Homo sapiens: one gene and its partners. The gene in region 1 interacts genetically with each later gene. Each region holds a gene or a part of one and is shown in the gene's direction. Other genes may lie near its edges. The genes, in order: ATG7, SPRED2 and RPS5.

Evidence for each region.
Region 2: of ATG7 (region 1) and SPRED2, changing one suppresses a phenotype caused by changing the other (phenotypic suppression), as found in Homo sapiens cells (one large-scale study listed by BioGRID).
Region 3: of ATG7 (region 1) and RPS5, changing one suppresses a phenotype caused by changing the other (phenotypic suppression), as found in Homo sapiens cells (one large-scale study listed by BioGRID).

What each region holds. Positions count from the first base shown.
Region 1 is NC_000003.12:11,310,257-11,313,908, forward strand, and holds part of ATG7 (ubiquitin-like modifier-activating enzyme ATG7), read left to right. Parts: intron 1-3,047; coding exon 3,048-3,164; intron 3,165-3,652. UniProt on the Homo sapiens protein: E1-like activating enzyme involved in the 2 ubiquitin-like systems required for cytoplasm to vacuole transport (Cvt) and autophagy.
Region 2 is NC_000002.12:65,422,534-65,426,185, reverse strand, and holds part of SPRED2 (sprouty-related, EVH1 domain-containing protein 2), read left to right. Parts: intron 1-3,652. UniProt on the Homo sapiens protein: Negatively regulates Ras signaling pathways and downstream activation of MAP kinases. Recruits and translocates NF1 to the cell membrane, thereby enabling NF1-dependent hydrolysis of active GTP-bound Ras to inactive GDP-bound Ras.
Region 3 is NC_000019.10:58,385,697-58,389,448, forward strand, and holds the start of RPS5 (small ribosomal subunit protein uS7), read left to right. Parts: upstream 1-1,572; 5' UTR 1,573-1,643; intron 1,644-2,440; 5' UTR 2,441-2,441; coding exon 2,442-2,549; intron 2,550-3,752. UniProt on the Homo sapiens protein: Component of the small ribosomal subunit. The ribosome is a large ribonucleoprotein complex responsible for the synthesis of proteins in the cell. Part of the small subunit (SSU) processome, first precursor of the small eukaryotic ribosomal subunit.

The sequences.
Region 1 (3,652 bases):
TCTTTGGAGCGGGCATATAAACACAGTAATGTTGCTGTGTATTAAGTGTGCTGTTTCACCACAGCATCATCAGCTTTGGACATTAATCCTCTTTCCCACTTCTTTTTTTGGCAAGTTTTCCTTCCCCGACCTCCCACCGTTCCTCCTAGATTCCTAGATGCAGGGGAGGCCTCTGATTTATTGCCCAAGGCAAAGGAGGGTATGATAGCAATCAAACAAGGCCAGTGGGTGGCTATCTACAAGGAACACATTTTCTAACAAGTTATAATGCTTTCTATGTAATAGTGGAGGAGAGAGAAAAATGTTTAAATTTTTTGTCTGATTACTTGGCTCAGTTTGGCATTAATAATCTGTCTATACGTTTGGGTAATTCTGTAGTTTTTTTTTTTTTTTTGAGACGGAGTCTCGCTCTGTCACCCAGGCTGGAGTGCAATGGTGCGATGTCGGCTCACTGCAAGCTCTGCCTCCCAGGTTCATGCCATTCTCCTGCCTCAGCCTCCTGAGTAGCCGGGACTACAGGCACCCACCACCACACCCGGCTAATTTTTTGTATTTTTAGTAGAGAGGGGGTTTCACCGTGTTAGCCAGGATGGTCTTGATCTCCTGACCTCGTGATCCGCCCGCCTCGGCCTCCCAAAGTGCTGGGATTACAGGCATGAGCCACCGCATGCAGCCTGTAGGCTCTTTACTGGGATAAATTGTAAGCATTGCTAGTTAAAGATTTCTAGTTACTTGAACGTCAGTACGCTTTCTGTACCAAGAATTCTCATAGTAGAACATGCTGACAGTTTGCATTTAATGAGAAAAATAACATTAGCTCTTACTTAAAGTTTTAAGGTTTGCCTAGAGTCAGTATGTGTGTTGGTCTTGCTGCCTTGTTTACTGAGCATTCTTAGCCTGACTTAAAAAAAATTGTAAGTATCTACTTTTTAAAATCTTCAGACACCAAGGACTTTATGTTTAATTTAATGGAGGTCATTTCTATCCTGAAAAGAATCCTAAGAAATGCAAGCTTTTTGACTTTTGAAAATGACCTGATAAAGTTTCTTAGAATTCGTGAGGTCCGGCCGGGTGCAGTGGTTCATGCCTGTAATTCTAGCGATTTGGGAGGCCGAGGTAGGCGGATTGCCTGAGCTCAGGAGTTTGAGACCAGCTTGGGCAACATAGTTAAACCCCGTATCTACTAAAATTAAAAAAAAAAATTAGCTGTGCATGGCAGCCTGTAGTCCCAACTACTCGGGAGGCTGAGGCAGAAGAATTGCTTGAACCTGGGAGGTGGAGGTTGCAGTGAGCTGAGATCGTCGTGCCGTTGCACTCCAGCCTGTGTGACAGAGCAAGACTGTCTCCAAAAAAAAAAAAAAAAAGATTTTGTGAGTTTCTTCATCTTGAATTGTTTAACCTTTTACTAAATATCGGTTATGACAAATCATTTAAGTACAAAGAAGAGAAAATAATCTCTGGAGGTGTTTTTGCTTTCCTTCTGCTGTTTTTTAGGACTCATAGGACTAGACAGTTCATTAATTTCAGCTTTGCAGTTCATTTTGCCATTGTGAAGAGGGAATTTTTTCTTAGTTGATCAATGAATAGCAGAATTAGAGACCGCAGAGATTACAATTATTAGACTTTCTCATCTGTACACATGATTACATATACATTTACATTTTAAAACTCATCTAGTATGATTTCATTTATATGAAAAGTCCAGACTAGGAAAATCCACAGAGACAGAAAATAGATTAGTGGTTGCCAGGGGATGAGAAGAGGGGGAATGGGGAGTCTCTGCTAATATGTATGAGATTTCTTTTTGGAGTGATGAAAATATTCTGGAATTAATAGTGATGATGGTACAACCATATCACTATACTAAAAAGAAACCACTAAATTGTATACTTTTTAACATGGTGAATTTTATGGAACGTAAATTATATCTCAATAAAAAGTCATCTAACAACCATCCAATTTTAATTCTTAGCAAGATTCAAGAAGAAATATTAATTAGCTACATAAACTGCATTCATATTCAGTGGTCACAGGCTTGTAGGCAAGCTGCCAAATACCCACATATGTCTGGAATGCTACCATGAATTTAATTAAGGCCCCAAAAGCTGTAAGAATTCTGAAGCAAGAGCCATTAGCGTGAGTGGGAACAGTGTCAAAGACAGCCTCACAAATCCTTTCCCCTGGATCTCCTACCCTGGTGGGGGATCGGTCAGATATACCCGTGAAGATGTAACCTCTTCTATTCACCCATCCAGCTTACTACTTAGAGCCTCTCCATGGCTCTAATCATGCACTCGCTTTATCTCTGCTCTGTCCACAAAGTGAGCTGCCTGGTGTCTGGGACTGGGGTTTATTCATCTTATTGTCAGTGTCTTATGTTTTGCCTTGTACATAGCAAGGGCTTGATAGTTGTTGACTTAAATCCACTAAGCCATTTACAAAAGCAATATTGTATTATTTCAGGCATGCATACATATGTGAATAGCACAGCTTCCTTAATAACATGTAATTTATTTGATTGTGAAGAGAATGGTAACTGTTTGGAAGTTGTGCTTCTGTAGATAGTACATTAAGTATCTATGGTCAGTGGAAAAAAGCTTAAGTTTTGGAAGCAGAGTTCTGATCTCTTCTCTGCCCCTTGCCATCTTTTTTGTTGTTGTTTAGGTTTTTTACCCCTTTGTAAGATTCAGTTTTCTGTTTATAAAATGGGATAATAGTAAATACCTCCCAGGGGGGTTTTGTAGGTTAAAGGATGATGATGATAATATCAATTACATATTGCACATTTTCTGTTAGCAAGTGGTCAATAAAGTATATTATGTTTGTCATCATATTATTAGTGGTGGTATATGAGACTATTTTGGGAATACAAAAGTCCTTTATTTGATCATGAGTTCTGTTGGGGATGAGGATATTTGATAAGCTGGACAGACTTTGTTTGCATAGCTTTGCTATCTTAATTGGCCTTGAGAAGCTACATTAATAGATGCATTTCACCTTAAGTTAATGGTGCTATTCTAATAACTTATTTATACTTTTTTTTCTAGGATCTAAAGAAGTACCACTTCTACTATTGGTTTTGCTATCCTGCCCTCTGTCTTCCAGAGAGTTTACCTCTCATTCAGGGGCCAGTGGGTTTGGATCAAAGGTTTTCACTAAAACAGGTATCAACAAATAACCAAAATGCACATAAAATTGGGTTGAATGTGCAAGAGTAGTTATGTAGTTCTTTCCAAAGACAAACAGGCACTTCTCTGGATGAAGACGTGGTAACTGAAATCCTCCAAAGGTGGTACTAGGAGCAGACTTATTTAGAAAATGTTTGTAAAGTCATTTTTTTGTATATATATTTATATATGTTTTGAGACTGGGTCTCACCCCCATTACGCAGGCTGGAGTGCAGTGGCACGATCACTGCTCACTGTAGCTTCAACTTCTCAGGCTCAGGTGATCCTCTCATCTCAGCCTCCTGAGCACCTGGGACTACAGGCATCCCATCACACCTGGCTAATGTTTGTCTTTTAATAGATATGGGGTTTTGCCATGTTGGCCAGGCTGGTCTTCAACACCTGGGCTCAAGCAATCTGTCCACCTCAGCCTCCCAAAGTGCTGGGATTACAGGCATGAGCCACCCTGCCTGGTCTGTAAAGTC
Region 2 (3,652 bases), on another chromosome or scaffold:
TTTTTATTCCATTCATTGTTGCGAGAACTGACAAGTAAAAAATCTTGACCACAATAAGACAGGGCCTGTTTCTATGCCTCTGTAGGAGAATCTCTGCAGAAATCACAGTATTAACAATTTTCAATAGCTGCAGGGTTCTGCTGGAGTCTTAACACTTGAGGGTGGATACAGCTGTGCTGATGAACTCCAATATTGGCATCATTCTTGTATTGCCGGCTGAACACAAATACAGTCTAACAGCAAAATTTTCAGAAATTGAACAAGTGATAATAGAGGCAGACCAGAAAGTTTTGGTGTATGTGATTATTTGTTTGGGCTTGTTTTTACTAAGGTAAATTAGGCCGAGTTTTTTAAAAAGACCCCGTCATCTCAATAAACTTGATAACTTATTCTTAGAAATATTTAAAAATTACTATTTAAATCTAGAACATTGTGATGGTGCTTTTAAGGCATTTTCTAGGGCTCTTAGTGACTTTGAAGTAGAAGAAATATTTTGTATTGATGCTCCAGTGCCCCGTGGAACAAAATATATTTTTTATATGCTTTCCCTGGATAGACATGAAGGATTGTTACATCTTGACATATGTCCCATGTCATGGAAAGAAAGTCAGGCCAGGATCATGGGAGTTTGCTAAATTAAGTAACAATTGTTTCATAACTACCCATTTCCCTTTCTCATGTAACCTTTATCAACATTATGTTCACATGTGGCATATTGCACACGTATTATCAAATTGTGCTTATGTTCTTCCTGCTACTCTCAAAGGGTAGTTGAATATTTATTTAAAAACAAACTTTCTGTGTTTACTTGCACTTAGAGGGTAAAGGTAAAGAAACAGATTTTGACTTCACCCTTAGCATTTAACACTTGTGATTGAAGAGATTAGAACAAATATTGGGAGCTTCTAAAATGTATGGTTTTGGCTCCTCTGTGTCCTGAAATAACGATTTTTCAGATCTGGTTGTTTTTATTCTTTGATATATTTCCTGTGGTCCATTTATAAATGCTTAAAACTTAATTATCAGTTAAGTTTTTAATTGACTTTCATTTGTTCATCTGGTAATGACATCTTTGTCTTTTCATTTTCATTATTTATTCCTCTTGTTTCTTTTTCTTACTGCTTTGCTTTGGCTCTGGCCTCCAGTACTGACTTTTCAGATACGCACTGTTTATTTTGTATTTGCATCCATACTAACTGAGAATGCACAGAGAAGCTTGGCCCATCTGTCTTTCTAGGTGTGGGAATAGGTTTGTTTGTTTGTTTGTTTGTTTTTGAAACAGACTCTTGATCTGTTGTCCAGGCTGGAGTATTCCAAGTGATCCTTCTGCCTTGGCCTCCTGAGTAGCTGGGATTGTAGGTGTGCGCCACCACACCTGGCTAATTTTTAAATTTTTAGTAGAGGTGAGGTCTTCTTAACGTTGCCCAGGATGGCCTTCAGCTCCTAGCCTTAAGCAGTCCTCCTGTCTCGACCTTCCAGAGTGCTGGGATTATAGGCATGAGCCACCTGCACCTGGCATGGGAATAGCTTTATCTTTTATTTTTATTACTTTTTTTTTAGAGATGGGGTCTTGCTCTGTTGCCCAGGCTGGAGTGCAGGGGTGCAATCATGGCTTACTGGAGCCTTGAACTCCTGGGCTCAAGCAGTGCTCCCATCTCAGCCTCCCAAGTAGCTGCGACCACAGGTGTACACCACCATGCCCTTTGAGAATAATTTATTAACCCTCATACCCATGGCCTGGCAGAACACTGAGCACATAGTAGGCTTTCTGTAAACAGTTATCAATTGGTTGAAGTAACTATTCATTAATTGAAAAAATAATTGTACCGTGTATAAAAATTTAACAATTTTTCACAATTTAACAATTATCTTTTTTGGATACCTATATCCAAAAAAGACTTTGAGTTGCTTTTTCAAAACTACTAAAGGAGAGGCTGCCATGATGGTAGTGGAAGAATCATGGACTTTGGAGTGAGACCGTACCTCTTCCCCTGCCACTAAGGGACCCTGCTAAGTATCCCAAGCCACCAGCCCTGGATTAATGTAAATGAGGTTCATTCTGCTGTATACCTAATAGGCTGTTAAAAAGTAGAAATGGACCAGGCATGGTGGTTCATGCCTGTAATCCCATCACTTTGGGAGTCCGAGGTGGGCCGACCACCTGAGGTCAGGAGTTCGAGACCAGCCCAACCAAGATGGAGAAACCCCATCTCTACTAAATATACAAAATTAGTTGAGCATGCTAGCACATGCCTGTAATCCCAGCTACTCGGGAGGCTGGGGCAGGAGAATCGCTTGAACCTGGGAGGCGGAGGTTATGCCAAGCAGAGATCGTGCTAAGCAGAGATTGCACCATTGCACTCCAGCCTGGTCAACAAGAGCAGAACTCCATCTCAAAGAAAAAAAAAAAAAAGCATAAATGAGGTAGCCTTGGTAAAACATTTTAGCACAGCACCTGAGAAATTGAGATTCAGTAGCATCCATCTACCCCAGGTCTGTCCCCCATCATGTAATAAGGTGTTCTTTCTTTTCAGAATTTACAAGGCAGAGGAGATCCATGAACTTTACAAGGCAGGAAACAAGATTTTCACTTTGTACCTTAGAGAGCTGAAATGACTTGCTCAAGGCTCCTCAGGGAGCTTGTGGGAGGATAATTAGGATTTAGAAGTCATGTTCTAAGACTGACTGTTTCTTTTGGCTTTCTAATGGTGTCCTGGTAGTTTTTGTACTGTGATAATCAATAATGCCCAGCTGACCATTGGCCCCTTTACTCAGTGATCCCAGTTGGCTGTGCTTTTTGAGATTCTGAGTTTTATAGCTTGTCTGTTCTCTTAGGGTAAGAGTACCTACCTGTAATAGCATCCTTGGCTCCCCTGCCATCCCTACGCCATTCCTGATATGTGGTCTAGATACCTTATTACCAGCAGCATTCAAATTCTCTCTAAAACAAAAGTCAGTAGGCTTGGTGTGGATGGGTGGGACTGACCATCCTCTTAGGAGTCACTTGGCTTATGACATGTTTTGTCTACTTGAATGCCATGTTTGGCATTTCATTTTATTTTTCCAGCCAAGGAATAAAGTGGACGATGGAGTGGGAATACAGACATAGTGCTAGACTAGAGGTTTAATTTATCAACATCCCAGTAATTTTACTCATTTTTATAGATCTTTTAAAGCAGCGTAAGTGTGACTATAGTCTTAATATAGTTATTACATTTCTCCCTTTTGCTTAAAGGTTAAGTCAAGTTTGATTTTTTTCTCAGGCTCAGACTCGCAAAGCAAATCTGCCTTGCTAGAATGATGTGCCTGGGCTCAACAGCTCACCTCTGGCCCTGAAGGCCTAATAATTGGTTGCCTTCTCATTGATCTGTGTGTGAGCACACTTCAGAACAGTACTCTGCTGTTTGTTAAAATAAAAAACAACAACAAAAAACCTTTGAAGACCTTACCGTCCATTCTAAGATGTCTTTTGTACTAAGGAAAATTGGGGATACTAGATTATAGGTGTTGATTTGGAGTGTGATATACTGTGAATCGGAATAACTTGAATTTAGAATGTACTTAGGCCCCAGTTGCAAAATTATGTGTAAATTATTGTATTGGATAAAATAAATGAGTGGAAGTACAGCCAGAGGAGAGGGAGCCACTAGCC
Region 3 (3,752 bases), on another chromosome or scaffold:
GGATGGGAGTAGGGGGCAGGCCCAGCCCTGGGACCTGGGTCAGGTGGCTGGGCCCTTCGGATCCCGAGTTGGAGGGATAACCCCTTGGAGGCAGAGATGGGCATCAGAGACAGGGCGGCCCCAGGTGGTCCTGGAGTCGCCTCGTAAAGGTTATGTCTATGCCTGCTGCAGGCAGAGACACAGTCAAAGTAGTTGCTACCTCTGGAAAGTCCCAGTTCTGCTCATGAGCCTAGATCTAAGAGGCTGGGACAGGCAGAGGGGTATGAAGGGGTCATGGGCAGGCAGACTGTCCACACTGGCTGCCAGGGTGGCCAAGTGAGTAGAGTGAGCTGGGGCACTCACTACCGTGCCAACCCCACGCACGGATGAGGACCCCGGGTCGAAGGCCCACATCCTCAATCCCACGCAATAGTTCAGGCCCTGTGAGAGGGTTCGCTGTCTGCTCCCAGCCAGGGCTGAGCTGTTCAGAGGCCCTACCTGTTCAGAGGCAGCTGGGGGAAGGGACAGAAGTTGGGGGGCAGGGGATTGTGTGCTGGCGGGAATAATCTCCTTCATCTCATGGCTAAATCTTCCATCCCTCCTTTCAACCTTTGGCCAGAAACCTACGTTTCTGACCCTTGGAGAGGTCGGCCAGTTCAAGAGGCACCCCTGAGAGCCACGTCTGCAGACACGAGGGCCTCGTGACGTGAGCCCTGAGGGCAGGGGGCTGCAACCCCTCGCGCGGGCTCCCCGGCCGTGGAGGACACAAGGACAAACACGAAGGGTCCCCGACCTGCCGACCCCCTCCTCCCGGACACCGCGCGTAGCCTGTAGGCTACCTCCGCGCTCCACCCAGAGACGGGTCGCGCTGCTCCCGCCGCCGCAACCCCGGGCCCTCGTGCCGGCGGTCTCCCCTCTTCCACGGGCGAGATTACTGCATAGCAGAGGTGAAGGGCGCGGAGGCTGTGGGGGAACCCAGCGTGGTATGGCAGGAAAGGTCGAGCAGGGAAACAGGCCCAGCCAGAGGCTCGGGATCCGGGGCTCGCGAGCGTGGTGCTCCTGGGCCGGGCGGTGGGGGAGGGGCCGCGTGTGGCAGGCACATGCGCACGGCAACCTGGACCTGCGGAGGGCGGCGGTGACCACTGGGCCTCACTCCGCTAACCCAGGTCCGCATCAGGCGCGTGCCGGTGAGGCGGCTGTGGCCGCGGCGAGGAGTCAGAGGGAACTGAACTGGCTACTCCCGCGGCAGGTGGGATTTAAGGTCAGCAGCTGAACAAAGAAGCGAGCGCTGGCCAGACTTTTTTCTTTATTAGACATGGCTGCGTTGGTCTCACGGAAATCTCTGCGCTTTTGCAGGCGCCCACAAGACAGGGCAACTACGGGGTAGCGGACATCCGCCAGGCACGCTTCTAGGGCCGCTTCTGCAACTGCGCATGCGCTTGGGCTGCACCCATTCCGTCTAGCCCAAAAGGTTCCTCTACAACCTTCCTCCGGATTGGTCTATAGGGACACGATGGCCTTTTACGCAAGCGTCACCCGTGCTGACCCGGAAGTTTTCTTCCCAGTTAAAAGTGTTGGCCCGCGGCGCGCGGCCTCTTCCTGTCTGTACCAGGGCGGCGCGTGGTCTACGCCGAGTGACAGAGACGCTCAGGCTGTGTTCTCAGGTGAGACCGCCGCGGGGCCGGGGATCCTAGGGACGGTTCATGGTCTTTCGGGGATAGTGCCCCGCGGCCTGGGCCTTTTCTCATTAGGTCTCATTTCTGTCTCTGGAAAAGAAAATGTAGAAGAAACGGGCGCGGGCCGAGTTACTCTTGACTTCTTTCTGGTGCTCCGCCGCTTCTAGCTTTTCCCCATAGCGGGGCTTGGGGAACTTGGTTTGAACTATGCGGTTGTACTCTGAGATAGGAAGTTTCCATTTCTTAGGGACACGATGCCCTCTTTTGCTCTGTGTAACTTTCCCCCCGTAATAGCAGCCCCTAGAGCCTTCATACTGTCGGTCAAGAATCGAAACCTTTGGGTTGATTGTGCCACACGGTACCTACCGTGGTCCTTGATGTCATATAACGGTCCCGCCTCACGGCCAAAGAAACAGTCCGAGACGGAACGTTGACTTGGGTCAAAGACCATGTAAATCGCGAGATTGTGGTTTGAATTACAGCCCATGCAGTGTGAGGACGTATGGCATCTGCTGAGCCATTATACCTTGGTCCCAGTGCAGCAGCTGTTGACTGGTGGCTGCCAAGTCTTGGGCCCAGGGGTTCTAGGTGAAAGACAGATGCTTCTTGCTGACAGCTGAGTAATTTTTCTAGTGCTTGAAAACACGTTCACGGCCTTTCTTGGTCCTTTGCGACCCCCCAGTTCATCACTAGATGGCGGCTAGCCTCAGAGTTGGGAATGAGTGCGCCTTTGCTCCATGCTAGCTGAGCTCTGACGTTTTTTTCCTGTCATCACCCTGTCCCAGGATGACCGAGTGGGAGACAGCAGCACCAGCGGTGGCAGAGACCCCAGACATCAAGCTCTTTGGGAAGTGGAGCACCGATGATGTGCAGATCAATGACATTTCCCTGCAGGTGAGGGGAACTTGGTGATTGGCCTTCCTGGCTGGGGGCGGACATTATTCCAGGAAGGCACACATCAAACTTGTTGCTGTGCCATTAAGTCAAGAATAGAGATCATAACAGGTAAAGAAGGGATCCCTTGACCACCACATCTACCACATCTGCTCTTACGTCCTGTTCAAAGATGACTACAACTTCTGTCATGAGAGGACTCCTTCACCAGAAGGAGCATCACATCTCACATATGGTATTTTTGTTACTGTTTTTGTAGTAAAATACATAACATCCAGTGTCATTCTTTTGCATGTGAATATCCAGTTATCCAGTACCATCTCCTAAAGAGATGTTTTTTTTCCCTCAATTGAATGGCCTTGGCCACTTGTCATAAATCAGCTGGCCGTAGTTTTTTTTTTTTTTTTTTTTTTTTGAGACGGAGTCTCACTCTGTTCCCTGGGCTGGAGTGCAGTGACGCGATCTGCCTACCGGGTTCACACCATTCTCCTGCCTCAGCCTCCTGAGTAGCTGGGACTACAGGTGCCCGCCACTGCACCTGGCTGATTTTTTTTTTTTTATTTTTAGTAGAGACAGGGTTTCACCGAGTTAGCCAGGATGGTCTCGATCTCCTGACCTCGTGATCCGCCCGTCTCGGCCTCCCAAAGTGCTGGGATTACAGGCGTGAGCCACCGCGCCCGGCCCAGATGTATGGGTTTCATTACAGACTTTCAGTTATATTCCACTGGTCTATATGTCTGTCTCTATGCCAGTACCACACTTTCTTGCTTTGTATTAAGTTTTGCAATTGGGAAGTGTGAGTTGTCCTACTTTGTTCCTACTCCGTACGGTTTTACACATACCCTTTTTTTCCCCTCCCCATGAAGGCATCATTAAGAATTTTGTGGGCCTTAAGAACTTTAGCTTTTGTGAGCCCTTCCTCCATTAAAAGAAAGTGTTTGAAATTATATTTTGTGACTGCATTGATATAAAGATGAATATAACTTGGGTTGCACTTTATTCACTTTCCTCCTCTTTTTTTTTAATCATTAAAGTTTTATCTTTGAGATAAGATCACTCTCTGTCACCCAGGCTGGAGTGCAGTGGTGTGATCACAGTTCACTGCAGCCTCAATACACCTGGGCTCAGGGGATCTTCCTGTCTTAGACTCCAACTAGCTGGGACCAAAGATGCATGCCACCAAACCTGCTACCTTTTGTTTTA